Linked DNA regions of Homo sapiens: all the other regions are linked to region 3. Evidence: fine-mapped expression QTL. A gene starts in region 3. Each other region holds a variant in brackets. All regions are shown on one strand. Distances are between the middles of the regions.

Region 1 (10,155 bases), 27 kb before region 3:
ACTAAAAATACAAAAATTAGCCAGGTGTGGTGGTACACCCCTGTAATCCCAGCTACTTGAGAGGCTGAGGCAGGAGAATCACTTGAACCCTGGAGGCAGAGGATGCAGTGAGCTGAGATCATGCCACTGCACTCCAGCCTGGGTGACAGAGTGAATGAGACTCCACCTCAAAAAAAAAAAAAAAAAAAGGTATGTTTCTAAAAAAGGAAAAGGATTTATTATTTGAGATACCGAGCACGATAAAGAAAAAAAAGGTTAACTCCCAAGTCTAAGTCCGTGGTTTTGATTACTCCCAGCCAGAAAGTTAAGAAAAGTCAGAACATCTATTTTGGTATACAGCTAGGAGAGGCACACAGTTCTTAGAGTTCTTACACTCAGGGAATGAGATGACTCTCACCCTGACCACACTTGTCTTCACAGAAGCATAATGTTATTTCTTAGCAATGTGATTAGTACCTATGAAACAGATAAACGTGAGAATCAATACATGATTTTTGATAGACTCTGGTACCAGGCTATTGAATAACTACTTCTTATGAGATGTAGGGAGATGTCCCTGCCTGAATGGTGTACATAATCTACTGTGCTTGCTGACATACACACAAATATTTATAGTACAAGACAGAATGTGGTTAGAGGCTATGCGTGGTGTAGGAATACAAGACCTGATTTTCTGGCTTTGTGAGAGGGAAAGGAAAAGATATCAGATGACTTGGGACTTAAAGAACGGGCAGAATTTCATCAAAGTGAAGGCAGGAGGAGGAAGGAGGAGAATAGCATTAGCACCTTTGGGGAGTGAGTTAAACTCTAGGTGCAAGAGAAGTTGAAGATAGACAAGACTTGGCCAGGTGTGGTGGCTCACGCCTATAATCCCAGCACTTTGGGAGGCTGAGGCAGGCGGATCACCTGAGGTCAGGAGTTTGAGACCAGCCTGCCCAAGATGGCCAAACCCCATCTCTACTAAAAATACAAAAAATTAGCTGGGCGTGGTGGCACGCGCCTGTAATCCCAGCTGCTCGGAAGGCTGAGGCAAGAGACTCTCTCGAACCTGGGAGGCGGAGGTTGCAGTGAGCCGAGATTGCACCACTGTACTCCAGCCTGGGTGACAAGAGCGAAACTGTCTCAAAAAAAAAAAAAAAAAAAAAAAGACATAATGGGGCCTGACTGGGAAGAAAACCATGCTAAGGAGTTTGGGCCATATTTCAATAGTGGGAAGAAGTAACCCATGAGTGATCAGAGATTAGGTCTAATCTTATGTGCTATTTACTTAGCACATGCATGGTTTTTATAACAAAAAAAGTTTCTGATCCTCAATATCCACACCTGTAAGATAAGATCTCTGTAGTGGATTAACCACAGTCTCTCTGGTGGAACACAGAAAGTTTCTGAAAAAGCATGTAACATGACTAACATCATATTTTAAAATATTATTCAGCAGTAGTGTGCAACTTGCTAAGAGGGAAAAAGACTGGAGTCTAAATTACTAGTCAAGAAGATCCTGAAACTAAGTGAGAGGTAATCAAGGTTTAAATTCGTAAATTAATTAGGGTAGGTGGAAATGGAAAAGTGGGAAGAGAGAAATTGACAGTTCTTAGAATAAAATGAACTTAGGGTAAAAGAGAATCAAAGCTGGCATCATCAAACCCGAATGATGGAAGGCTGTTGATTCCATTAACAGAGACAGTAAATATAGAAAGAAGAGGGAAAATGATGAGTGTTGATTTACACATGTTGAGACATACATGTCAGCAAGAGAAATCCAAATGATATACAATAGGAAACTACAAATTCAAAGCTAAAGTTAGAAATCCGACTCTTGGAAGATTTTAAGACACTAACTTTATGCTTTGCATATATCTCAATCCTCACAATCATTCTACAGGATTGGTTTTATTGTCTTATATTTATGGTAACGAAATTGAGATTCAGACATATTAACTTTACAAAGATCACTTAGCTATAAAGTAGCAGAGCTGGGATTCAAACGCATATTCTGTTTGATTCCAAAGTCCATTTTCTTTCAACTACAATTAATGAAGAATGATTAAAACCGCCACTTTTAGCCAATGTAGAAAACCAGCTAGAAAAATCCCTGAACCACCTAGCTGAAAACCCATACAAATTATTTTTCAGTAAGAGAATAGTGGTGAGTATCTTCCCAGAGTGGTGAATATCAGAGATAATCATTCCTGCTTTCAGGGAAACTTAAAAGTTATCCTGGGCTCACTTGGAATACCCTCCATTGTAGTAACTGGCTTTCATTGGCCTGCATTAAAGGTGTGGTATTGGGGCCAGCATGGTGGCTCACGCCTGTAATCCCAGCACTTTGGGAGGCTGAGGCAGGCGGATCACCTGAGGTCAGGAGTTCCGGACCCAGTCTGGCCAATGTAGCAAAATCCTGTCTTTACTAAACATACAAAAAATTAGCCAGGCATGGTGGCAGGCGCCTGTAATCCCAGCTACTTGGGAGGCTGAGGCAGGACAACTGCTTGAACCCGGGAAGCAGAGGTTGCAGTGAGTCGAGATCATGCCATTGCACTCCAGCCTGGGCGACAGAGCGAGACTCTGTCTCAAAAAAAAAAAAAAAAAAAAGAAAGGTATATTATCTCTCCCCACCCACACAGTCTCTCTCAGATATGAGTTCCATTTTCAGACTTTCAGACTCCAAAACCCATTCTCTTCAGTCATATGCATTCTACTACCACATGAACTGTGAAGGAAGAACTGCTGGATTGGAAGACAGTTGGCTGCAAGAGTTAAAGGAAACATATAACAAAAATAAACACAGATTTTTAGCTTCAGAGACTAGAAGGATCGTTGCATGACAAATAAATGGTATACATAGAAAGGGGAACAGTTTGCTGAGAAGGAAGATGCCTTCAGTTTCAGATACAAATGGCAGATTTTTTTCATTAAGAAAGTAGCTTGGAAATCAAGTAACCAAATCCCCTTTTTTACAGTGAGGAAACTGAGATGCATAAAGCTCCAATCATTTTCCAAAGTCACCAGCTGGTTAGTATTAGAGCTAGAGTTCTAACTCCCAGGATCAATGTTCTTTTATCAAACCAGGTAGCTTGAGATGGGCCACTAAATTGTCCTAGGGTAGGGTAAGCTGTAGCTTGGAGATAAAGATCTCTCGAACAAAGGTCCTTGAAAAGTTGAAGAGTGACTCACTGGGAAATCTGCCCCAGGTATCTGCTTCCTCAAGCTGTTGCTTACGGTGAGGCCGGTAACTGCTCCAAGAAACCTATTCTAATAAATTCATTTACAGACTCTCCTGACCAAGGAAACTGTCTCTCAGAAACCAGGCTTGGACAAAAACAGCCGGGCGCGGTGGCTTATGCCTGTAATCCCAGCACTCTGGGAGGCTTAGGTGAGTGGATCACTTAAGTTCAGGAGTTCGAGGCCAGCCTGGCCAACATGGTAAAACCCTGTCTCTACTAAAAATACAAAAATTAGCCAGGCGTGGTGGTGCATGCCTGTAATTCCAGCTACTCGGGAGGGTGAGGCAGAAGAAAAATTGTGTCACTGCACTCCAGCCTGGGCAACAGCACAAGACTCTGTCTCAAAACAAAACCAAAAAAAACAAAACAAAAAAAAACCACCAAACCAAACCAAAAAATAAATGAGCTGGCCCTGCAACCAGCCCTCCCCAAGCCACTAATAAAATCCTGTTCTTATATATCCGATCTCAGTGGCCTCCTCTCTTTTTTTTCTCCTGAGATGGTTACTTATTCAAGCTGTATGGCTTCCTGAACATAGCCTCAAAAAATTAGAACAAAGTAAAAACTACAAACTCACTTATGAAGAAAAAATGGGCCACATGTGGTGGCTCATGCCTGTAATCCCAGCACTTTGGGAGGCCGAGGCAGGCAGATCACATGAGCTCAGGAGTTTGAGACCAGCCTGGGCAACATGGTGAAACCCTGTCTCTACAAAGAAAAAATACAGAAAACTATCTGGCCATGGTGGTGTGTCTGTGGTCCCAGCTACTCAAGAGGCTGAGGTGGGTCACTTGAGCCTAGAGGTTAAGGTTGCAGTGAGCCGTGATCACACCACTGTACTCAACCTGGACTATAGAGCCAGACCCTGTCAAAAAAAAAAAAAGAAAAGAAAAGAAAAAAAAAAGTAAAGAAAAGAAAGAAAAGAAAGGAAAGAAAGAAAAGAAAAACATTATTTTTAAGAAATAGATTGTAGAGTTTTAGTTTTTCTACCAACCTCTCTTCCCAATTTGAATGTCATCAGGTAAAAGGGAGCAATTAAAAGAAAAAAAAAAACTAAAAAACTTCAAGTTGCAAAGGGAATTTTAAATAAAAGCAACATGAAATACATTGCTACATAATGTTTTTTCAGAAAATTACATTTCTAAATTTATATTTCTGTACAAAAATAGTGACTAAATTCACATTCTTGAACATTTTTTGGAAGTTAATAGTTATTTATTTTTTTTTTGAGATGGAGTCTCACTCTGTCGCCCAGGCTAGAGTGCAGTGGCGCAATCTCGGCTCACTGCAACCTCCGCCTCCCAGGTTCAAGCAATTGTCCTGCCTCAGCCTCCTGGGTAGCTGTGATTACAGGCATGTGCCACCACACTCGGCTAATTTTTTTTTTTGTATTTTTAGTAGAGATGGGGTTTCACCATGTTGGTCAGGCTGGTCTTGAACTCCTGACCTCATGATC[C/T]GCCCGCCTCGGCCTTCCAAAGTGCTGGGATTACAGGCGTGAGCCACCGTGCCTGGCTGGAAGTTAATAGTTCTTTAACCTTTTTTTTTTAAACTTTTTTTTTTAAACATGGACTGCTTCACAAATTTGTGTGTTAACTTCACACAGGGACCATGCTAATCTTCTCTGTATCATTTCAACTTTAGTATATGTATGACTGAAGTGAGCACTCACCTTTTATTCTGAAACAATTTCATACATAAGAGTTGCAAAAACAGTACAAGAGTTCCCATATACATTTCACCTAGCTTTATCTTATATTACCATAGTACAATTAGCAAAACTAAGAAATGAGCACTGGTACAATACTATTAACTATAGACTTTATTGAAATTCCACCAGTTTTTTAATTAACGTCTTATTTCTGTTTCAGGATCATACACTGCATTTAGTTGTCGTGTCTTCCTAAGTCTACCCCAATCTATGACAGTTACTCTGCTTTTCCTTGTCTTTCATGACCTCGATATTGTTGAAAGTATTGGTCAGATATTATGTAGAATGTTCCTCAATTTGGGTTTCTTGGTTTCTCCAATAAAATAGAATCAAGACTCCTTGGAGAAGCGGTTGATTCCAGAGCTGGGGAAGGGCAAATACAAGATCAGCCTGGAACATCTTGCAATACTCAAAAGACAAAACAAAAAAAAGTTTTTTTAAAAAACATGATATTTTCTCAGATTAGATTGAGATTATAAATGTTTGAAAGGAATAATCCAGAGTTGATGTTCCCTTCACAGTGCATCATATCAGAGGGTACGTGATGTTGATGTGATGTCTTATTACTCACGACATTAGCCTTGATCACATGGTTAATGTGGTATATCAGGTTTCTCCTCTGTAAAGTTATTATTTGTTTTCCCTTTGTAATTCATAAATATTATGAGGGAGAACTTTGACTCTGTTTCTCCTTAAACTTTTTCCCATTAATTTTAGCATTCATGGGTGTGTCTTGCTTATGGCAATTATTACTGGTATTCTAATGGTGATTTTCTGTTACTGTCATCCTTTCTACATTTATTAATTGAAATTCTTCTATAACGAAGATTTGTTCTCCCTCATTTATTCAACCATTTACTTAGAAGATTTTACATTACTTAGAACCATTTACATAGAGATGAAGTCTCCCTATGTTGTCCAGGCTGGTCTCAAATTCCTGAGCTCAGATGATGTTGAAGGCCGAAAGAGTGAGGGTCGTGATCAACTCAGTATACCACTGGAGGCTATATGAGTAAACAGCAAACTGTTCTCATGAATGCAGAATGTTGGCAAACTGACAAATTGCATCTGCCACCCAGAAGGAATGCTGAGGGCAGTCACACCAGCAGTGTTTCTTGTGATTAGGCATAATTGATACCTGTTAACAGTAATATGAACCTGTGATCAATTAAGCAGCTGACCAATCGTTACCTCCTCCTCCCTGCTCTTTCTACCCAATAAATACAAAGGGCTGTGGAAGCTCAGTGGGCTGCCTTTGCTCACTAGAAGCAGGGAACTCTCTTTTTCTTCCTCTGACCCCTTCCTTTAAAATAGTTACTTTTAAGTTTTCATTTCTGCTTTCCACACCCTTAGTTCAGTCTTATAATGATGGTCTCAAGTAGTAACAGTAGTAACTGTCATAGTGATGGTCTCAAGTAGTAACCTTGGCAGTATGCCACAAGATGATCTTCCTGCTTCGGCCCTCCAAAGTGCTAGGATTACAGGCATGAGCCACCACGTCCAGCCCAACCATTTATTTATATTAGGATGGTTTCATAGATAGTTACTTTATTCCCTGTATTATAATCCAATACTATCCTTATTTTATTGCTTAAATTGTTCCAGCTCTTGGAGTTTTTGGCTTGGCTCCAGTGTTCTCTCAACTTGCCCTGTTTTTTGTTTGTTTTGTTTTTAGCACTTCCTTACTTTCTAGCACTGCAAGATGTTCCAGGCTCGTCTTGTATTTACCATGCCTCAGCCCTGGAATCAACTATTTCCCCAAGGAGCCCTGTTTTCTTTTATGGGAGAAGTTAGCATCTGGGCACTACTAGTTATGCTCATTGCCACTGAGATGTCACTGCTTCTAGGCGTCTTAGTGGACAAAACCAAGAATTATATGTATGTATACTGGCCCATGTATACACACTGCTTTTTGTGTGTGTGTGTGTGTGTGTGACAGAATCCACTGTCACCCAGGCTGGACTGCAGTGGTGCAATCACAGCTCACTGCAGCCTACCTCCTGAGCACAAATGATCCTCCCACCTCAGCCTGCCAAGTAGCTGGGACTAGACACATGCCACCGCGCCTGGCTAATATTTTAAATTTTTTTGTAGAGACAGAGTCTCCCCGTATTGTCCAGGCTGGTGTCAAACTCCTGGGCCTAAGTGATCCTCACGCCTCAGCCTCCCAAAGTGCTGGGATTATAGGTGTGAGCCACTGTGCCTGGCCTATAGGCACACATTTCTTTATTTAGCTCTATATCTACCTATACTTTTTTTTTTTTTTTTTTTTTTTTTCTGAGATGGAGTCTCACTCTGTCACCAGGCTGGAGTGCAGTGGTGCGATCTCGGCTCACTGCAACCTCTGCCTCCCGGCTTCAAGCCACTCTCCTGCCTCAGCCTTCTGAGTAGCTGGGACCGCAGGCATGCGCCACCACACCCGAGTAATTTTTGTATTTTTAGTAGAGACAGGGTTTCACCATGTTGGCCAGGATGGTCTCGATCTCTTGACCTCGTGATCTGCCCACCTCGGCCCCCCAAAGTGCTGGGATTACAGGTGTGAGTCACCGCGCCCAGCCCTATAAAAATTTTATAAACTATAAATTCATACTGATATTTCTGACTCCAGTCTAGCATCACAAGGTTCATTCTAGTATTCCCTCTTGGCTTATTTATAACTTCTTTCTCTGATAGTAAAAAGCCTAACCCCACAGAACTTTGATTTCTGAAAACAGATCTAGAATCTCTAAAATTATGCCATAACCAGCTTCTCCTCCCATGATACACCGTATATTTTTTTCACTCCATTTGAAATGTTATCCCGTACTCAACCTATTCACCTTAAAAGACTCAAGTGAAAGAACACACATGGCCCTTTTCCAAACTGCCCTAGCCCTATTCCTAATCAGCATAAGTCAATCCCCCTGCCTTATAATAATTTCATAATTCCTACTCAATAGCAAGATATTTGAAGTCAGAAGACAGATCTACTTTGTCTTTTAACCTTCTGACATCTAGTATTTAATACATTGCTTTCTAAATAGAAAGAACTCTATAAATACGCCTTCCATAAAATTACACATAGCTTTAAGTTTTATCTGAAACACAATTAGTACAGAAACTGAATGCTTATCCTGCAGTCCCAAGACTAGTTATGAGGAAGCATATATTTTTCAGAACTGTGAATTACCCAGTAATTTTAGCTTATTCAAACTCTCATATAAACTCACAATATAAAAAAATGGAACCACTAAATAACATCAAATGTTATAAATAAAAAGCTCACTACTCTATTATTCAGAAACATGATGATAGACAAGTCTGCAGGCATGTTAGAATAATCACTGCTACTGTTCTTGGAAGAGCTTCAGGTATGTGTAGAAACATGAATCTAGACAATAGCACAATTGTAACATTGACCAAATTCCCAGGGGTCAACAAGAATGTAAATGTTTACATCAGGACAGACTCACTTCAATAATATTTGATCTCTTTATCGCCTTTTAAAGGATATTTTGTGCCTTCAAAAACACTAAGACCCAGAGCAAAAGCAACAAAAATGAGGCTGTGTAATTGAGAATAAATTCCACTTTTCTCTTTTCTTGCAGAATCCTCTTTTCCTACCTCCACTCTTACTCCCAGGAATCAATAAAGAGTCAGTCTCTCTCCCTTCTCTGAGCGAGCTCACTTACTCTCAACTCATCAAAAGTCACTTATTCCACATGATTCCCAAAGCTGGATCCTAAGGCCTAACTTTCCTGGCTTCCACTCCTAGAGTTTCTTTTTTTTTTTTTTTTTTAGACAGAGTTTCACTCTTGTTGCCCATGCTGGAGTGCAATGTCGCAATCTTGGCTCACTGCAACTTCCGCCTCCTGGGTTCAAGTGATTCTCCTGCCTCAGCCTTCCGAATAGCTGGGATTACAGGTGCTCACCACCATACCCGGCTAAGTTTTTGTATTTTTAGTAGAGACGAGGTTTCACCATGTTGGCCAGGCTGGTCTCGAACTCCTGACCTCTAGTGAGCCACCCGCCTCGGCCTCCCAAAGTGCTGGGATTAGAGGCGTGAGCCACCACGCCCAGCCCAGTCCTAGAATTTCTACTCCATGCTGGATAGTTTCATATGTCCAATATGCAACGTAACATAACCCAAATCATATGTATTATCCTTTCTTAACCTCTACTCTTCAAATTAAGTTCATTTAATTACAAATCATTTTTCTCCAAAGAATTGGTATATGAATTTTTGCTTCTATCAAATAAAATAACACATAACATAGTATAACAAAATGTACACAAAGTTTGAAGTTAAAAGGAGAACTTACAGGTTCTCACTGGGCCTCTAACTGTGGTGACATGTGCAAGTTTCTTTACTTCTCTGAGGCATATACCATTACCTACCCTAGCTAGTCAAAAATTCTATATAAAATGCCTAACACAGGGACACATTTTGGAAAGAAAATAGCAAGAGGCTAAGGGCATGGGGCATGGATTAGAATTTAGCTGTTGAGATCTCTCACCACGAACACTAGCTGAGTGATCTTGGGCAAGTTTAATAACTTGCCCCAAAAAAAAAAAAAAAAAAGGAAGTCATTTATTTACTTATTTACTTATCAGTAAATGCTATTTTACCCCTCTCCCTGCTTTTTTTGTCTTTTGCTTTTCTGCCATCTAGTATATTTTTTTTTTTTTTTTTTTTTTTTTTTTGAGATGGAGTCTCGCTCTGTCGCCCAGGCTGGAGGGCAGTGGCGTGATCTGGGCTCACTGCAAGCTCCGCCTCCCGGGTTCACGTCATTCTCCTGCCTTAGCCTCCCGAGTAGCTGGGACTACAGGTGCCCACCACCACGCCCAGCTAATTTTTTGTATTTTTCAGTAGAGATGGGTTTCACCGTGTTAGCCAGGATGGTCTCCATCTCCTGACCTCGTGATCTGCCCACCACAACCTCCCCAAGTGCTGGGATTAGAGGCGTGATAGTGTATTGCTTTCTAAATAGAAGGAACTCTATAAATGCAGCTTGAATAAAATTGGACAAAGCTTTGCACATATGGATTTTGCACAAGCTTTTCCTCACATCTTTAGGTATGCTCAAGTTATTTCTTGATGCAAGCCATTCTCTGAGCACACTACTCCCCCCGAGGACACTGCTACCCTCTGTCTGAAAATGCTTGAGCCTCCCTGGCCTTCTGCTATGGGTCCCAGCTTGGGTGACACTTTGTTCCAGATGCCTTCCCTGACCCCTCAAGCTT
Region 2 (10,155 bases), 100 kb before region 3:
TTCCTGATAGGTGGGGACACAGTTTTTGGGCTCTTGACAGAGGTGCTTTGAAATGAAGCTGCTACAGTGAATGGGCGGCTTCTTTCCTTCAGTGAAGAAGATCGTCTTAGCTTCTTCAGATCTAGATCGACATCCTCAGGAACTTCGGGCTTGCTGATTTCGTCTTCAGGAGGCCATTTGGGCTTTGACATTTTGATCCCTTCCTCCAAGGCACTTCCTGAACTTCCAAGTTCAGTGGGGGGTGGCCAGGCGATCCTCAGCTTCTTGGTTTCAGCTGGCTTGTCTTCCTTCTCCTGCTGAGAGGAGGCCTTGGCTTCCATACTTGCAGCCAGGACACCCACCTTAGCAATAGGGGCATCTTCTACCCCTGGGCTGTGAGGGGTCTCCCTTGCATTTGCAAGCTGGGCTGGTCTCTCCAAAATCTCTTCGTTTTCATTTTTGCTTGCCCATAGATCCTTGTGTGGTCTGTGCCCAAAGCCTTCATCATAGTTGCCCTTAGATTTAAAGAGTTGATTGAAGTGAGGCTTACAATAGATTCTTCCATGTAAAGATGCATATGTTCCTAGACTGTCATTAAAAGAAAAAAAGCATAAACTTAGCAAATCTTCACATTCTCACTTATACCAGGAGGCTAAAATCTGGCAATTCCAGTATTTTCAGAAGATGCCAAGTAAGAAAAAGATCTTTAAAAGCCCTTCAGTGACCAGGAATTCCTTACCCCCATTTTAGCACATTTGTTTTCTTATCATAACACAAAGCACGGGTTGGGTGCAGTGGCTCATGCCTGTAATCCCAGCGCTTTGGGAGGCCAGGGTGAGAGGATCGCTTGAGCCCAGGAGTTTGAGACCAGCCCGGCCAACATAGTGAGAATTCATCTCTACAAAAAATTTAAAAATTAGCTGGGTGTGGTGGCACATGCCTGTAGTCTCAGCTACTTGGGAAGCTGAAGTGGGAGAATCACTTGAACCCGGGAGGCAGAGGTTGCAGTGAGCTGAGATTGTGCCACTGTGATAGAGCGAGACTGTCTTAAAAAAAAAAAAAAAGAAAAAAAAACCAACAGTAATAGAAACTTTAAATCATTCTGAGCCTTGAGAGGAATGTGGCTATGCAACCTGGGTCACACAGCATGTAGCTGCAACTCTTTCTTTTCACTATAAATTATGAAGACCAAAGGGCACCAGAGATAAGACCCCCTCAGATCACTATCCCTTCTTTGCGAGTGATAATCTTCCTTGGAATGTACCAATCTGTACCCAATCAAATCACTGTGGTATATGCACTGGTCTTATATGAAAAATGTCATAATCTTTGCTAAAATTTCTGTGTAAGTGAAACTAACTTTCTCCACTTTGGAATGCTGACCCCATTCATTTGGAGTCAGTGTTTCTGGGTAGCCATCATCAAGCTTTTGTGCTTGAATTAACTCTATTCTTAACGGTATATAAATACATATATATATATATATTTTTTTTTTCTTTTTCTTTTCTTTTTTTGAGAGAATCTCGCTCTGTCGCCCAGGCTGGAGTGCAGTTGCACAATCTTGGCTCACTGCAACCTCCGCCTCCCAAGTTTAAGCAATTCTCCTGCCTCAGCCTCCTGAGTAGCTGGGATTACAGGAGTGCGCCACCACGCCTGGCTAATTTTTGTATTGTTTTGTTTTGTTAGAGTCTCGCTCTGTCGCCAGGCTGGAGTGCAGTGGCATGATCTCAGCTCACTGCAACCTCTGCCTCCTGGGTTCAAGCGATTCTCCTACCTCAGCCTCCTGAGTAGTTGGGACTACAGGTGTGTGCCACCATGCACGGCAAATTTTTGTATTTTTAGTAGAGACGGGGTTTCACCATGTTGGCCAGGATAGTCTCGATCTCTTGACCTCGTGATCTGCCCGCCTCGGCCTCCCAAAGGGCTGGGATTACAGGCGTGAGCCACCACGCCCAGCCATTTTTGTTTTTTTTTGAGACAGAGTCTCGCTCTGTCACCCAGGCTGGAGTGCAGTGACACGATCTCAGCTCACTGCAAGCTCCGCCTCCCAGGTTCACGCCATTCTCCTGCCTCAGCCTCCCGAGTAGCTGGGACTACAGGCACTCGCCACCACACCTGACTAATATTTTGTATTTTTAGTAGAGACGGGGTTTCACCTTGTTAGCCAGGATGGTCTCAATCTCCTGACCTCGTGATCTGCCCACCTCGGCCTCCCAAAGTGCTGGGATTACAGGCATGAGCAACTGCACCCAGCCATTTTTTGTTGTTTTTTTTTTTGAGTGGAGGTCTTGCTCTGTCACCCAGGCTGGAGTGCAATGGTATGATCATAGCTCACTGCAGCCTTGACCTCCAGGGCTCAAGTGATCCTCCAGCCTCAGTCTCAGCCTCCCCAAATTTTTCATAGAGATGGGATCTCCGGCCAGGTGCAGTCCCAGCACTTTGGGAGGCCGAGGTGGGCAGATCACTTGAGGTCAGAAGTTTGAGACCAGCCTGACCAACATGGTGAAACCCCATCTCTACTAAGAAATACAAAAATTGGCCAGGCGTGGTTGCTCACACCTGTAATCCCAGCACTTTGGGAGGCCGAGGAGGGCAGACTGACTGAGGTCAGGAGTTCAAGACCAGCGTGGCTAACATGGTGAAACCTCATCTCTATGAAAAATACAAAAATTAGCCAGGCATGTTGCACACGCCTGTAGTCCCAACCACTCGGGAGGCTGAGGCAGGAGAATTGCTTGAACCTGGGAGGTGGAGGTTGCAGTGAGCTGACATCATCCCACTGCACTCCAGCCTGGGCGACAGAGCAAGACTCCATCTCCGGAAAAAAAAAAAAAAAGAAAGAAATTAGCTGGGCGTGGTGGTGCCCGCCTGTAATCCCAGCTACTCAGGAGACTGAGGCATGAGAATCGCTTGAACCTGGGAGACAAAGGTTGCAGTGAGCCAGGATCACACCACTGCACTCCAGCCTGGGCAACAGAGTGAGACTCCATCTCAAAAAGAAAAACCAGATGGGGTCTCTCTATGTTACCCAGGCTAGTCTTGAACTTCTGGCATCAAGTGATCCTCCTACCTGGGCACTCCCAAAATGCTAGGATTACAGGTGTGATCCTTATATCCACACCTAGATATAAGCTTGATTAATAGAAGAATGGTGAGGAGTTGACAGGAGGTAGTTTTTCCCTAATGTCAGTCCTAGACAAGCCTTTAGGAGATTTGGTGTCTCTTGCAGGATGATAAGTTTTATCTTTTTAAAGTTTTTTCCCTTAAGTTACGAACCATTCTGAAGAGTGACAAATGTTAAAGGGGGTATAAAACGGCAGCACTTCCACAAAAGAAATAAGGTGCTTTAAGCCAGGCACAGTGGCTCACACCTATAATCTCAGCACTTTGGGAGGCCGAGGCGGGTGGATCACGAGGTCAGGAGATCAAGACCATCCTGGCTAACATGGTGAAACCCCTTCTCTACTAAAAATACAAAAAATTAGCTGGGTGTGGTGGCGGGCGCCTGTAGTCCCAGCTACTTGGGAGGCTGAGGCAGGAGAATCGCTTGAACTCAGGAGGTAGAGGTTGCAGTGAGCTGAGATCACGCCACTGCACTCCACCCTGGGCAACAGAGTGAGACTCTGTATCCAAAAAAAAAAAAAAAAAAAAAGGTGCTTTGGAGAAAAAAATTAACACAGTGGGCAGCAGAAGAACTAATGAGTGGAAGTGACTGAGGTACACTTTGGCTGCATGTTTGGAGAAGCTGTCTAGCTAGAGCTATCTAATAGCTAGAAATGTCACACAGATGCCAAAACATCTTTCAAGAGTATTTTAGGAAGGATTGCTCAGAAAGGAAAGCTGGAGAAAGTGACATCTTGGTTACTTCCTTCTGTAAGACTCTATGATTAAAATGAGTTAATTTGGAATGTTTCCCCGATTTGTCACATTTATATTTGCACTTTGAGTTACTTGGAAGAAATGATATGTAACAACTATTTTCTCAGAAATAAAGTGAGGCAACATAGAGAAAAAGACATGCTCTCCAGGGGCTATTATTATTGCCATTATTATCATTTATACAGTGGTTAAGACAAGTAAGGGCTTAAACAAGTAACCTCTTGAGATTTCTTAACTTTGTGATTCTGTGATACCAAGGGAAAACATTCTATTAAATTAGGTCACAGGGGGGTTTACCTGCAACTCATATTATTTAAGCTTCGGTCCTAACATGTAAATTAACATATCAATACACCAAGAAGTTCCAAACACCATCATTATTTGGTATGAAAGACTTGTCACTAAATGATGCTTTTTACTTTATTCAAGAGCCTTCAACAGAATATCATTAGCACAGTAGCTTTTAGCACCAGTGCTCTAAAAGCCAAAGACTCCCTCTAGAGTTCCAGTTATAGACAGATGGCTTGTTTTGGGCTGACTTACCTGAGTTTGTTGTTGCAATAGGAGCAACGGAAGCAGCTGATGTGAAACACCTGCTGGTTGGCCAAGAGACGCTCCATTGGATAGACTGTCTTCTGACATTCCACGCAGGTCTCTCTTGCAGGTGCCTGAAACTTCTAGGAAAAACAAAAAGACAACTTTAGCATGGGCAGCGATGAGTTAGCACTGTCTTGAGATGGACCCTAGAATTTACTTTGTCTAAGGGCTCCCTTAGCTGGTCAGTCAATTCTCATGGAGCACTAAACCTGCTACAATTCTATCAGCTGACTCTTTAAAGCCAAGAGGCTCTCTTGATATTCCCTTCCCAAACTGTGTGGCTGCTCTAAATGTAGCAGCCACCAAGGATAGGTGGAGCTACGTCTGGATTACAAAGAATGGCTTAGACAAGTCACGACCCACATAAAAAATGTTAGGAGCAGGGGATGGGGGAAGGGGTCGGGGGGGGGAGTGCAGGGATTAGGAGAAAATGTTATCACACACAGAAGAAAGAAGTTTGATTCAAGTGCCAAGTAAACACAAGACAGATTCTAAAGGGGATAAATTTCAAGGAGAGGAAGAGCATTTGGCTTTGGGAATTAGGAAAGACATTTCAGTAAAGCCCCTTTTATTCT[G/C]CTCTGCTTATAATCTTGATTTGTTCAATCAACTAGACATACTATTTTTAAACAAGTCAAAACTGACACACAAGTGGAACAATTTATAAGAGACACAAAGTATTTTATTAGGACACCAGAGGGAAGCATAGCCCATTAAAGCTATAGGTTCTATAATATTTCTAAAAACCAATGGAGAGAAAAACTAATGCAATGGGAAACACACTGGTTAATGTATTAATGACTGGGAATTCATGAACTGTTTGTAAAGTTGGAACAAACATGGGCACAGTGGTTCTACCTGATAAACTCAATCCTAAAGAATATAAAACAGTTGGTATTCTAGCACTGATAAAAGCCAGAACTCCAAAAATATTATAAGCTTTCACATGATAAGAAATAGTTACATGGGCCAGGTGCGGTGGCTCATGCTTGTAATCCCAGCACTTTAGGAGGCCGAGGTGGGCGGATCATGAGGTCAGGAGTTCGAGACCAGCCTGGCCAACATGGTGAAACCCCGTCTCCAGTAAAAATACAAAAATTAGGCAGGCGTAGTGGTACACTCGTGTAATCCCAGTTACTCGGGAGGCTGAGGCAGGAGAATGGCGTGAACCCGGGAGGCAGAGCTTGTAGTGAGCCGAGATGGCGCCACTGCACTCCAGCCTGGGCGACAGAGTGAGACTCCATCTCAAAAAATAAAGAAAAGAAATAGTTACATGGCTACTAAGGGGTGGGGAGTAGATGGGAATGCAAAGTCCCTAGGTGTATGGGAGTTAACCCTTGACTTGCCCAACACAAACACCTCAACCAGTAGATGCGGGAGACAGCTTAGGTGGCCAGGAAGCTCTCATCAGCAATTAGGAGGTGCTTTTGCTGCCATGATCAGCCTGGGCTCTCACCAGAAAACACATGATGGTAAGTAATGCAAATTAATCCCAAGGCCCAGGACCTGGATAGTTAAGCCTGAAATGAACCAGGTTATGGGCAAGATAGAATTTTGAGTAAAAAAAATCCAAAATAGGCTGGGTGTAGTGTCTCACGCCCATAATCCCACACTTTGGGAGGTTGAGGTAGGCAGATCACGAGGTCAGGAGTTCAAGACCAGCCTGGCCAACATAGTGAAACCCCATCTCTACTAAAAATACAAAAATTAGCCGGGCATGGTGGCGTGTGCCTATAGTCCCAGCTACTCGGGAGGCTGAGGCAGGAGAATCGCTTGAACCTGGGAGGCAGAGGTTGCAGTGAGCCGAGATTGAGCCACTGCACTCCAGCTTGGGCAACAGAGTGAGACTTGGTCTCAAAAAAAAAAAAAAAAAAAAAAAACCCAAAACAGGCCCATAAAAAATTCAGACTGTTGGTTCACTTGCCACATGATTCACTAGGAGGTAAAGCAAAAAATAAAAATGGTTTTCCAAGTAGATTTGGGCAGGAAGTGAGAGCAGAAAATGTGCATAAAATGAAAATAAAGAAATCTATAAAAGGAAGTTTAATAAAATTAGTGGTAAACTCCCAAGTAGTGCCCAAGGGATTTAAGAAGGAAGGAACAAAGCTGAGTGGAAATGGCTAGTTACCAGGACTCTGCTTTATTCTAGGGGCAATGTCCTAAAAAGAAACATCTAAAGAATCAAAAGACCACAGGTTACAACCTAGTTTAGCATAAGGGAGGTATTTAAATATAACCAAATGTTATTGTAATGAATGTTGTTGCAAGTAATTAACACATTATCGTATTTGGAGTTCAGAATTCTTTTTTTCTTATATGGACACTGCTAAATGGAGATATCTTTGCAGAGTTTTAATTAAGTTTTCTCTAAAAGGACTAGGTCTTTGTCTAGGTAGGAGATACACTGGCCAGGTGCGATGGCCCAGGCCTGTAATCCCAGCACTTTGGGAGGCCAAGGCAGGTGGATCACTTGAGGTCGAAGTTCCAGAGCAGCCTGGCCAACATGGTGAAACCCTGTCTCTACAGAAAATGCAAACATTAGCTGGGCGTGGTGGCGGGCGCCTGTAATTCCAGCTACCAGAGAGGCTGAGGCACAAGAATCACTTGAACCCAGGAAGCAGAAGTTGCTGTGAGCTGAGATCTCATCACTGCCCTCCAGCCTTGGAGACAGGGCAAGACTCTGTCTCAAAACAACAACAACAAAAGGAGAGATATTAAAAAGCAGAATAAATTTTTGGTGTAATAGTATAATGGATGCTACTGGAGAGAGCCTGTACAAATCACAATTCACATAATGTAAAAGTAGGACAAATGTATTTATCAGATTAAAAATCATTTTCAGTTGCAGAAAGGGAATTCTGCGTTTTTTGTTTTTTTTGTTTTGTTTTGTTTTTTGAGACAGAGTCTCACTCTGTCACCCAGACTGGAGTACAGTGGCGCGATCTCAGCTCACTGCAAGCTCCACCTTCCGGGTTCAAGCGATTCTCCTGCCTCAGCCTCCTGAGTAGCTGGGATTACAGGCGTGCACCACCACACTCGGCTAATTTTTGTATTTTTAGTAGAGATGGGGTTTCACCATGTTGGTCAGGCTGGTTTCTAACTCCTAACCTTGTGATCTGCCCACCTTGGCCTCCCAAAGTGCTGGGATTACAGGTGTGAGCCACTGCGCCTGGCCCGGAATTCTGTATTTTTTAACACTTGAAATAGATGTAGGAGAGTAAGTGCTCATTCTGGTCAGTAAAGACACAGCAGGAGACAGAAACTTCACATGGGATAAGAGGAGATGGATACTGTTCTGCTAAAGGGGAACTGAAGGACGCAGAGCACTCCTCCATCACAAACACACGGAGGGGAGGCACACACTGTGGGAGGGGGAAGCAGCCCAGGGAACAGAAGGAAAGGAGAACCTGTGAGAAAGCTGAAAGTTGAGCTCACATTAGGAGGAAAGTGGAAGGCAGGAGCAGAAATTAGGTACCAGGAGCAGGAGGCAGAAGCTGGAAGAGACAAACAGGAACCTTCAATGAATACACAGCATTTGGCGTGCCCTGGAGAGCTTTACTGCAGCTGAGCTGAAACTCAGAGACTCAGATCCAAGAATAAGACCACATTTTTCTTTTTTTCCTTTTTAAGTAACTCTGCTAATCATGGCAAAATCAGCCTCACTCGTATCTACCTGAGGCTGGAACATATCCCAGCTCAGGAGAGCGAGCTTTTATGAGCCTTCACCCACACAAGGAGTGTCTCATTAACAATTCTTTAGTGGCTTACTACCTCCCACACCTGACCCACATCGGCTCTCTCTTTAATAGAGCCTTCACCCACATGGAGCAAAAAGTCTGTCTTCCTCCTTAACATCAAGTTAATAGATTGCTAGCTCACATAATTGACTAACCTTGAGCTTCTAACTAGCCAGACCTATCAGAGTCCCATTATTCCTATTCATTTCTCACATCAACCCTTTTCAATATTATTTAAGGTTTATGCAGCAGCAGCTGCCTAAGGGCCCCTTCTAGTTTCATAAAGACAAGAGGGTCCCGACATGGTAAAATGCCAACTCACAGCGGCTGCGGCTGTGCCTCCCCTTTATTTTCTATGTCCTGGGCTCTCAGCCACTTTTCTGTAATTGCCCCCATGTCTATTCAGACAACAGGAAGCATAGTCAGTGCCTAAAAATCTCTACCATTATCACAGGCCTGGCATACATCCTGCCCATGCCTTCATGGCATGCTCAGACTTGGCACAGCCATGTTTAAAACACTGCCAATACGACAATGTTAGACATTTTTTATCTTCACAGTATATTTTTTCAGTTAGTAAGAGATTTTTTTTTTCATTCCCCTTCTCCCACCATTTTGCCCCTACCAAGTAGAAAGTTAAACACCAGGTCTTATCAAAGTTCACATAGTCAATAACAGAAATAGAATTAAAACTGTAGGAAAACAGCCTGTTGCATGGCAGGAGTGATGCCATCTTGGAGTGAAACCACCATGCTAACTGGTGGTTTGACTCCTGCATACCAAGGTGGTTTGTTCTGCAGCAAAGTCTTTAAACAATGCCTGTAGCATAGATTATCCCTCATAAAGGGGTAGTGCCCAGAGCATAGACAACCCCTCATAAAGATGCTTATCCAATCGCTCCAGTGATAAGTTTTGCAAGAAAGTCAAGCGTGACTAGCTGCACATGTTTTATCCTAAAACCTTGCTATATAAAGGATATTTTCTGGAGGGCTGGTGCAGGGATCCACTGTCTCATGGCCTCCTAGACATCACTTCTGTTCATAAGCTCTTATTAAATGTTTCTTTCTGAGAAACTGGATTTGTCAGCCTCTTTCTTTGGCTTTTCAGCTCCCTCAGCCTTTGTGGGTAGGTCTGCATAGACCTGCTCACTGCACAAACTCAGAACTCCTGACTCACAAACCAAGAGAGCATTTTCTAAATTGTCCTGGAATGTTAAATTTCCACAGCCAAGGGAAACTCTTTGGGGAGGAGAGCAGATGCTAACCCAAATGAAATTAATCCCACGACAGCAATTTGAACAAACTATGGTCTTCCCTTTGTTTCAAATAAAAATGTGTAGATAATATCTTCAGGATATTCTAGAGTGAATGAGGTAATCTATAAATAATTGATGTTCATAAATACTGTCTTTCCCGTTTGAGGGATATTACAGACCCTCTGTTGATTACCATCTACTTAAAGCTGTTTTTCTAACAAATTTGCATGGCTTCATTTACATTCTTTTACCCTCTTGTCTCATATATTTTTTACTCTAATAAAGGCCCCAGTTGTGGTGTGTGTGGGAGGTAGGGGGGAGCAGCTGACAACAGACATTGATGTTAACTAGCCTTTAGACATAGTGAAAGAAGATGAAAATTCTGTATTGACGTCAAGCCTCTATTCCTCAGAATACCACAAAATGCCTTTCATTCCTTCCAATTTGTGTAAAATATCTAGGTAATGAAACTGAAATTCTTCACCACACAGCAAATGGTTGGGCCAGCCCTGTGCAGCCTTAACCCTTCCTCTAATTTTCTGTGAAACTCTATGAAAGCATTTTGGGGAATATTCATATCTTAAATAGAGTGCTCTACACAGAGAAGAAAGGACAGTCCTCTGAAAAGGCAGTAATAGTGAGTGAGTGAGAAAAGATTCTAGACACTCTTCTAGCATAATTTTGACAGCTTTGCAAGCCAGCATAAAACCT
Region 3 (10,155 bases):
AATTTTCACACTCCTTGACCTGGTAATTCAACCTCTGGGAATCTAACCTAAGGAAATAATGAGTCATTTGCACAAAGATTTATGCATAAATTTGTTCTCAATTGTTTTCATTTAATGTAAAACCAAAACACAAATAAATTATGCAACCTCAATATAATAAATTATTAAATAGATTACAATGGAGATTAAATATCCATTTAAATGTTTTCAAAAATTTTTGATGCTATGAAAAATAATATAAAGCAAAAAAAGCAGACACAAAACTATATCTACTGCAACAGTATGAGTTCAATTACCTTTGTGTTTATGTGAGTGTGTGTATATCAAAGAAAACAAAACCACTGAAAGGAAATATATCAAATGATAGATCTCTCTGGAACAGATTATGGAATATGGGTTATTTTGTCTTCTTTATAATTTGTTTTTTCCACATTTTCTTTTTTTCTTTTCTTTTCTTTTTTTTTTTTTGATATGGAGTCTTGCTTTGTCACCCAGGCTGGAGTGCAGTGGCATGAGCTTGGCTCTCTGCAACCTCTGCCTCCTGGGTTCAAGGGATTCTCCTGCTTCAGCCTCCTTAGTAGCTGGGACTACAGGCATGCGCCACCATGCCCAGCTAATTTTTGTATTTTTAGTAGAGATGGGGTTTCACTATGTTGGCCAGGCTGGTCTCGAACTCCTGACCTCAAGTGATCACCCGCCTCAGCCTCCCAAAGTGCTGGGATTACAGGCATGAGCCATCACACCCGGCCTGTTTTTTCCACATTTTCTATAATAAACATATATAATTTTTATTTTATAATAATATAAATATCTATAATTTTTATTTTTAAATGTGTTGGCATATATGAAAATAAAACAATTATATATACAATATGAAAGAAGTTTTTTAAAAAGATAAATTTTCAGGCCACTTACATGGAGGTGATAGTGGAAGTCATGGAAAGAAATCAGATTATAAAGGGAGAAAGTATAGTGAGAATAGGAAGCTGAGCAGGGCTATGGTGAACCCGGCATTTAAGGGGCAAAAAGACTGAGTTAATGGATCATGGGAGTAAGTGGTTAGATTAGAAAATGGAGAACCAGATAGTAGTCATGTCAAGAAAAGCAAATGAAAGGAAGAACTAGACAAGTTGTTCACTTGGTCAGTTATTGCCAAGGGGTAAGGACCGTTAGACAGAAACCACTGGATACTATGCATGGACAGACAGCTTTCCTGTAGTGCTGGAAGCCAAATTTTTGCTCAGACGCCAAAGCTGAGCAAATGTTACCTGTTTAGTAAAACTGACTATGAAATAAAAGAAGTCCCGGGGCATTAGCTTGAATTTCAGTTTATGGAGAAAAAAAAGATTGTGGAAATCTAAAACTAAGTAAAGCGGATATTGGGACTAATTTATGGGTAATGAAACAAAAATGGCAATACTTTGTGCAAGACAAAACATATTTGAAGGACTGTAAAGTTTTCCATATCATAAACTCTGTTACAGAATAATTAAGGGGGAAAATAGATCCACACTTGTTATCAGAAGTACAAAAAAGTTGCATCTTTTTTTCCCCTAAAGATGAAAGTTCTTAGTTTCAGGGTAGTAGTATTTTTTTTTTTTTTTTTTTTTTTTTTTTGAGACGGAGTCTCACTCTGTCACGCAGGCTGGAGTGCAGTGGCGCGATCTCCGCTCACTGCAAGCTCCGCCTCCCGGGTTCACGCCATTCTCCCGCCTCAGCCTCCCGAGTAGCTAGGACTACAGGCGCCTGCCACCACGCCCGGCTAATTTTGTTTTTGTATTTTTAGTAGAGACTGGGTTTCACCATGTTAGCTAGGATGGTCTCGATCTCCTGACCTCGTGATCCTCCCGCCTCGGCCTCCCAAAGTGCTGGGATTACAGGCGTGAGCCACCGCGCCCGGCCCAGGGTAGTAGTATTAAGAAATTATTTAAAAGAACATCAAAAGAATGTAAAATTTTCATGGTATCATGTTAACTTCTTATGAGTGGACACAGGAAGTCTCTAGAAAGTTTTCACGTGTCAAGAAATCATCTGACATGCTGAATAATGGATTGCTTGTTAGGTCAAACTCCATCCTTTTTATGAAAAGAGGTCTTCAGTAGCACAATAATTTGACTGAGTCTTGAGGACTCTGCACCCAGCTTCAGAATAAACTCATCAGTATGGTCCTACCTTATCATCCACCATAGACTCTCAACTCCATAATCATTAAGTAGAAACTACTTCATTTACAACCACTGGTTTGTTAGTAACCTGAAGAGGCTGTGTTAAGTAACCTCACCTGGAGATTACTGTATGCAATCTAAAATGAAGTACCTTAAGTTTCTATCAAAAAACATACAGTGAAAGACAATAGCAAACTTAAAAAACAATTGCCTTTTCTAATGGAAATTACTAACTTAGGACTCGTTATACATTTTCCTATCTGCAGAAAGGGTACAATTCTAATCTAAAAGTCATCTATCTAATAGTGTATGGAATTAAGAATGCCTGAAACTAGTTTCACTGTCAATTTAAATAATAAATTCTTCCAATTTGTGGTTAGGTGCCCTATTATGCCAAAGATGTCTAATGAACTCCCACACTCTCAATATTCTTTTGTGTCTGTGTGTGTGTCTTTGATAAATTTTTTTGGTACGAGGGCTCTAAGTTAATTGCAGTTAACTGGTGAAAAATACCAGAGAAAATATAAGAATTTGAAACCTGAAGAAACACTAGTCAAAATTATACTTAAAAACATTTTTCCCCACCCACCTATCTACCCTGTCTTCCCCACCCAAGAAAAAAAGAAAGAGAAAAACATTTTGAGGGCATCTTAGCAGGAAAAAGTATCCCCTGTCACCAAGATGTGAATTGTTTTAGCTTCTGAAGCTTTCTTTTAGAATTATTAGGTTGAAATTTAGCCCCACCTTTAACCAGAGTCTGGAACAAAGCTTGAGTGTACCAAGTTAAAGAAAGTTATACAATGAGGTAATTTTTACAAAATGGCACTCCTTTGCTAATGTTGCCAATATACTGTTCTCTTCCCAGGGACTACCTGATAACAACACTTCCCAGCCCAATACAGAACAGTGGAAACAGATCCAACTATTTACTAAATGCCACATTAACAACAGGGTCTAATCCCATTTTCCATAGGCCATAGAATTGGAGGAAGAGAGGGTAAGAAATATGAAAGTGATACAAATACATAGATTGAAGAGAATCACTCATTATTACTCAGAGGTTTTTGTTTTTAAGGAAAAGCAGAAGAGAGAATTAAAAAACAAAACAAAACACCTATATTCCCTATGCTCCTACAGTACCCTGGGCTGACCTCTAGTATAGAAATGACCTCACTAATACCATAAATTGTATGTGGATCTGTCTAACCCATTTGATTTTAAGTTCTTTTAGGGTAAAGACGTTTGGCACTTTGAATCTACAGTAGGACTGACATGAAAGGCACTCAATATTTTGTCCAAAGAATGAAATAAGTTCCTAAACTAATTACCTAGTACATTATATGTTGTTCTATCAATGCAAAACAAGAAAACATATATGAACACACACTTTTTTTTGCCTTCTTTCACGCCAACTCTATAATTTTTTGAAGATCTATCTAAAACGTGATCATCCTGCACCCAGGTTATACCTCTACAGGAACTTAGAACATGTTGTTAGGGGTCATGTTCTTTTGTGTCTACATCATACCTCAGAAGAAAGGATTGGTGTTATTTCATGGCTCCTGAAATATTTAGCATTTGTGAATAGTATTGGTAACCAAGCAGATAAAAGGTACTGTGTTAAACCATTTAAATCAAGAGCAAAAGAAAGAATACTTAATGCAAAAGAAAACCTCTCCCCAAAATGGGCATTGCCTTAAAAACTGATAACTCCCTAATTACCTTTGACTAACCTGAAAAGTCAAGTCAATTGAACCATCTGGATTAGGCAGATCTGGATTAGGCAGACTTATCTTTTATTTTTATTTATTTATTTATTTTTTTGTAGAGACAAGGGTCTCGCTAAGTTGCCTTGGCTGGTCTCAAACACCTGGGCTCAAGCGATCCTCCCGCCTCAGTTTCCCAAAGTGTTGGGATTATAGGCGTGAGCCACTGCGCCCGTCCAAGGCAGACTTTTGAAAGCTGGAATTAGGTGCAAGACAATAGTAGTTCAAATATCTCTCACCAGGATCAGCTAAACCGTTCTTGCAAGCATCAGTAAGGAGGCTAGGAAGGGTGCCAGATGGTTCGTTCCTAGCAGCTACAACTTCAAGCTTTAGTATGTGTAGCCAGGGGTGTACAATTACCTTACATTAACACCAACATATGTCGGGGGCAAGTGCCAGCGATATATACACGATAGCGATTCGGGGATGACACATCGGCTGCAAGGACTGCTATATTCTCAACATTCCTCAAAAGGGTGTAAGTGTCTTAAACAGAGTTCAGCTGGCGTAATGGAAGGGAGAAAAAATCGAAAAGAGAGGGAATGGCTGAAAATGAAGGAAAAAGAACAGTTGAATATTACAGTATTTCCCTGGAAGGAGGGTATTTGGAGTTTTAATGAATTGTCACCTTCCTCCACCACACCAGAAAGTATACAGTTAGAATGCAGTGTTCTCGGTGGGAGAGGACGGGGTATTTGCAGCTCCCGCCCTTGGGCAGCAAAGGCTCAGCCCGACATAAGCACTCCCCACCCAGCGCAGGCCCCAGAAGTGAGGAAAGAACGGAGGATCAGCGTCCCTCGACCCCTTATCTCGAGGGGGAGGGACTCACACTCCTTGCACTCCCCCCGCCCCAAAAGTCGAAGGAGAAAGAGGGTGTGGAGAGAAGCCGGGGTCTTCCCGCACTCTCCGGTTGTGGAGAGAGAAGGCCCTTACCTGGCTAAAAGCCGCCTTTCCTCTGCGCTGCTACCAGCCCTGTCACAGGTCCCGGCGCTCTACCTAGCGCACCTGTCGCGACCAAGCTGCTAACACCTACTGCTCCTGCGGCCCCGCCCCGGACCCCGCCCACCGCCGCGGGGGCGCGCACGCCAGACAGCCTCCCGTGCGGCCTCGGGCTGAGCGTGCGCGCCACCGGCTACGTGCCCAGCGCTCGCGTCTGCTCCAGTCGCTCTGGCGGTGCGGGGCGCTGGCGACGGGACAGGGTTTTTGCTGCCCGGGGCCTAGTCTACCTCGGCACGCTTTTCTCTGAAGGAGACACGCACTTGCACGACGTGGGCCTCTGTGCAGCTCTACTTTGTCCTTAACTCCTCTGACTCAACGTTATCGCAGTTTGACTCTGGAGCCACTCAGGTTTTTCCTAAGCTCAACTCTAGCCAGCTAGGTTCCTGGTGCTTTGGGGGTAAGTTGTGTGCAGGGAGGGTGTTTTACAGGAGGCTGTGTGGTGTAGTGGAAAAAGCTGAATTAAGTACATTAATCCTGAAAACGGTTTGACAAGGGCAGATGACGTCCAAGTTCTCCAACAGCTGTTTTTACTCCTCCATTCAGAATAGGAGCTGTGCTAATGGTTTGGAGACCGTCAATTGGCCTAGCACTTGGCCATCCTGCCCCCAAATTCTTGTCCCAGTTCCGTGCCAGCTGCATGATGCCTTTTGATAGTATCCTTCTTTCCTGTACCTCAAGCATAGTAGGGTTTCAGACCACAAGTTTTCTGAAGCTTTTCGGAATTCATGCAGCTTGATGCGTTATTAGTAGGGGCTGCTCGTGGGAAAACGCTTGTAATTACACTTCCTCAAGAAGTTAATGAAAATGTGTGAGAAGAGAGATTTCCAACAGGTGATGAATATGCCAGCCAGTTATTCCCTTCTTCCTTCAAATATCCAGCCTAGACTGATTTCTGGATAGGTATTGTAGAAATAAAAATTTCAGACAAAACAAACTTAGATTTTGAATCGGACAACAGTCAGAACCAAAAGAGGCTCAGACACCCCTGCTCTAGCTGCCCAGGCATCAAACTTTATAGGCTGAACACGAAAGTAAAGAAATTTGATTGGCTACAGCTAAGCGTTTGCCTTATTTGGGTATGGTCACATGGGAGGTCCCTAATTATATAACCACTTGGCTGGTTGTCTGTTTGTGATTGGTTGAAACTCCATTCAAAATCAGGTACAAGGGGCCGGGCGCGGTGGCTCACACCTGTAATCCCAGCACTTTGGGAGGCTGAGGCAGGCGGATCCCCTGAGGTTAGGAGTTCGAGACCAGCCTAGCCAACATGGCGAAGCACCGTCTCCACTAAAAATACAAAAATTAGCCGGACGTGGTGGTAAGTGCCTGTAATCCCAGCTACTCGGGAGGCTGAGGCACGAGAATGACTTGAACCCGGGAAGTGGAGATTGCAGTGAGCAGAGATCTCGCCACTGCACTCCAGCCTGGATGAGAGAACGAGACTCCATCTCAAAAAAACAAAACAAACAAAAGGTGCAAGGAATACCTCTAAATTTTGGGTTGCTTTCTGGGTACAAAAACAACTCCAAACTAATGGCCTGCTACTTATTTTGCATTAACAGTATCAAGTATCAAGACTCCAGCAAAAGTGGCAGACAGCATGGGAATGCTAAAGAGCATACAATATCAATACAGGATAGTACTCCAGAAAATACGTTACCCTGCATGTGGCGTTCCCTCAATAGATGTCTCCCCTCCCCCCAATTTTTTTTAGCTCTGTGCTTTAGTGGATACAAAAATTACTTGCTTTCCCAAAGCCTCCTTTTGAAGATAGAGCTAGCATTAGGTTGATTGCTAAATTTTCAGGGATTTTATGAGCCAGGTCATAAGCACAACCATTATTAGAAATCAAATTATATAAGCTACAATTAAATTATCTTAAAAATAAAAGTAATAGGCCAGGCATGTTGAGTCACATTTGTAATCCCAGTGCTTTGGGAGGCTAAGGCGGGAAGATGGCTTGAGGCTAGAAGTTTGATGTTGCAGTGAGCTATGATCACACCACTGCACTCCAGCCTGGGCAACAGAGTGAGACCCTATTTCTAAAAAAAAATTTTTAAATATAATAAATATTAAAAACTCATCACTTTGTAGTTTTTTTCTTCATTTTACTAATAATTCTGCTCTTGAGGTTATTTGTCCATTGTATTCCCTGTGGAAATACTACATATGTTGTATGCATCTCTTCCCAACTCTATTCAGAAATGTCACATTGGTAGCACGAAATTGGCTGTAAGGGGAGTATTTACACCATGGAAATGGGCAAATGCAGCAAGTCAGGGCGTGATTTATTGTTTTGTTGATTTTTCTAGACCATATGTTAGCAAACCTTTTGTGTAAACAGCCAAATAGTAAATATTTTAGGCTTTGTGGGACTTATAGTCTCTGTCACAGCTACTCAGCTCTCACTGTAGTGCCAAATGTGCCAAAGTAGCCATAGACAATACTTAAAGAATGGGCATGGGCCAGGTGCAGTGGCTCACACCTGTAATCCCAGCACTTTGGGAGGCCCAGGCAGGGATCACTTGAGGCCAGGAGTTAGAGACTAGCCTGGCCAACATGGCAAAACCCTGTCTTTACAAACAAATAAAATAAACAGACAAAAAAGCTGGGTGTGGTGGTGTGTGCCTGTAATCCCAGTTACCTGGGAGTGTGAAGTGGGAGGATGCCTTGAGCCCAGGAGTTGGAGATTGTAATGAGCCGAGATCACACCACTGCACTCCAGCCTGGGCGACAGAACAAGACCCTGTCTCAAACAAAAAACTCATAGGCCTTTATCTGATAGTGAAGGGAACAATAGAGTTGAAAGGGAAAAATGGAGTAGATACAGGCAAATGTTTACATACATGATACGGTGCAACAAGAATAGCAGAACATACTGCAAAAGAAATTATGTCAACATATTTAAGAATCTTGGAAGAGAATGGCAAATATGCACTATAATTGATGAGACATCTACATATTGGAAGAAAATTACCTAGAGATTTATCTCCAGTACACAGTTGAATAAGCTTCTGTACTGGTAAAGATATTTGTTGCTTTAAAAGAATTGGTGTCAGCTGGGCACGGTGGCTCACGCCTATAATCCCAGCACTTTGGGAGGCTGAGGTGGGCAGATCACAAGTGGGCGGATCACGAGGTCAGAAGTTCGAGACCAGCCTGGACAACATGGTGAAATCCCATCTCTACTAAAAATACAAAAATTAGCCAGGTGTAGTAGTGTGCGCCTGTAGTCCCAGCTACTCAGGAGGCTGAGGCAGGAGAATCGCTTGAACTCCAGAGACACAGGTTGCAGTGAGCAGAGATCACACCATTGCACTCCAGCCTGGGCAACAGAGCGAGACTCCATCTCCAAAAAAAAAAAAAAAAGTAATTGGTGTCTGCCACACAGATTATATTTCTACTACATTATTGTCTATTTTACTTTTTTTCTTTTGAGGCAGAGTTGTGCTCTGTCCCTCAGGCTGGAGTGCACTGGCACGATCTTGGCTCACTGCAACCTCTGCCCCCTGGGTTCAAGTGATTCTCCTGTCTCAACCAAGTAGCTGGGATTACAGGCGTGCACCACCAAGCCCAGCTAATTTTTGTATTTTTAGTAGAGACAGGGTTTCACCATGTTGGCCAGGCCGGTCTCAAACTCTTGACCTCTAGTGATCGACCAGCCTTGGCCTCCCAAAGTGCTGGGATTACAGGCGTGAACCGCCGCGCCCAGCCGATATTGTCTACTTTAAATGTGGCTTCAGTAATGAATATTTGAAATTTAATAATGAATAGTTGAAAGTAAGCTGCATTTTGTTTTAATGGTGCTTTCACAATAATGGGAAAGAAGACTGGAGTGGCCACAGATTTGTCAGAAAAATTTCCTAATGTCATCATTTGGTTCTGTTACCAATTATAATTCAGTATCTGAAATAAAACAAGTCAATCATTTAAAAATATTCTGGATAGTCTGGGCACGGTGGCTCATGCCTGTAATTCCAGCACTTTAGAAGGCCGAGGCAGGCGGATAACTTGAGGTCAGGAATTCAGAACTGGCTTGGCTAACATGGTGAAAGCCTGTCTCTACTAAAAATACAAAAATTCACTGGGCGTGGTGGTGCACGCCAGTAGTCACAGCTACTCGGGAGGCTGAGGCAGGAGAATCACTTGAACCCAGGAGGCGGAAGTTGCAGTGGACTGAGATTGTGCCACTGCACCCCAGCCTGAGACAGAGTGAGACTCCGTCTCAAGAAAAAATAACAATATTATGGATAAAATTTATTCTGTTTACCACCAACCCAAAAAAAGGAAACAGTTGGAAATTATAGCTAAATAACTTGAAACTGAAATTATTAAAATTAGCCAAGTACTTAGGTTGAGATGGGTGGACATGTACTTTACCAACCGCTAATGCTGCATGGCACACATATCCTACATTATAAATGCATTTTTCTCATTCTTTTTATTCTGGCCTAGCAACAAGATCAGCTAATATTAATTTCTTGTAATACCTTACTTTAATGATTGATATTCTTAAATAATTTTCATTACTTTCAGTTGCACTGCAGTTAAGATCAACCAACATTCAGAAAATTAAAAAATTAATAGAATGCACTATAAAAGCTTTGGAAAAATTAAAAATTGGCATTAGAAAGCATGACTCTCAAGTTGAATATTTGGTTAAGTCATCAGTTTGAAGTCATTCCATTTAATAATTTTTTTTTTGAGGCAGGGTCTCACTCTGTTGCCCAGGTTGGAGTGCTGTGGCACAATCATAGCTCATTACAACCTCACACTCCTGAACTCAAGTGATTCTCGTGCCTCTGCCTCTCAAGTAGCTGGGACGACAGGCACATGCCACTACACCTGGCTAATTTTTAAAAACTTTTGGTAGAGATGGGGTGTCACATGTTGCCTAGGCTGGTCTTGAACTCTTGGCCTCAAGCAATCTTCTCATCTTGGACTCCCAAAGCACTGGGCTTACAGGCATGAACTGCCACACCTAGTCAAAAATAGATTTAAACCTCTGCCTAAGAATGTGTTACTAAAAAGTAATGAATACATGTCTTTTATTAGAAACATCATTTTAAGTTGTTTTTATTTGTTAAAATCACCTTCTTGGACTTCTTCACTGTGGAAAATAATATCATTTAAGTGAAATTTTAAAACATGTATTTTGAATTATTTTTTCTTTTTTTTTGATATGGAGTCTCGCTCTGTCACCCAGGCTAGAGTGCAGTGGCGTG

The links. PIP is the estimated chance that this variant, and not a neighbour inherited with it, causes the effect.
Region 1: its variant is the best candidate, but not a certain one, in a credible set for the expression of LIMA1 in whole blood (TOPMed, PIP 0.79).
Region 2: its variant is the best candidate, but not a certain one, in a credible set for the expression of LIMA1 in whole blood (TOPMed, PIP 0.64).

What each region holds. Positions count from the first base shown.
Region 1 is chr12:50,251,456-50,261,610 of GRCh38, forward strand. All of the region lies in intron 1 of LIMA1 (LIM domain and actin binding 1), which reads right to left. It also overlaps the pseudogene RNU6-1093P. Among named protein-coding and RNA genes, the nearest start is that of MIR1293, 22 kb to the left of the region's middle. The variant C/T (reference allele first, on the strand shown) is at 4,681.
Region 2 is chr12:50,177,503-50,187,657 of GRCh38, forward strand. LIMA1 (LIM domain and actin binding 1) reads right to left here. Exons shown (of 11, transcript NM_016357.5): 10 at 4,402-4,535; 11 at 1-567. Among named protein-coding and RNA genes, the nearest start is that of CERS5, 15 kb to the left of the region's middle. The variant G/C (reference allele first, on the strand shown) is at 5,031.
Region 3 is chr12:50,278,556-50,288,710 of GRCh38, forward strand. It overlaps LIMA1 (LIM domain and actin binding 1), which reads right to left and starts at 4,965. Exons shown (of 11, transcript NM_016357.5): 1 at 4,865-4,965. LOC107984505 (a long non-coding RNA gene) reads left to right here and starts at 5,066. Exons shown (of 2, transcript XR_001749144.2): 1 at 5,066-5,327. It also overlaps the pseudogene LOC100418734. RefSeq lists a silencer at 4,876-5,185.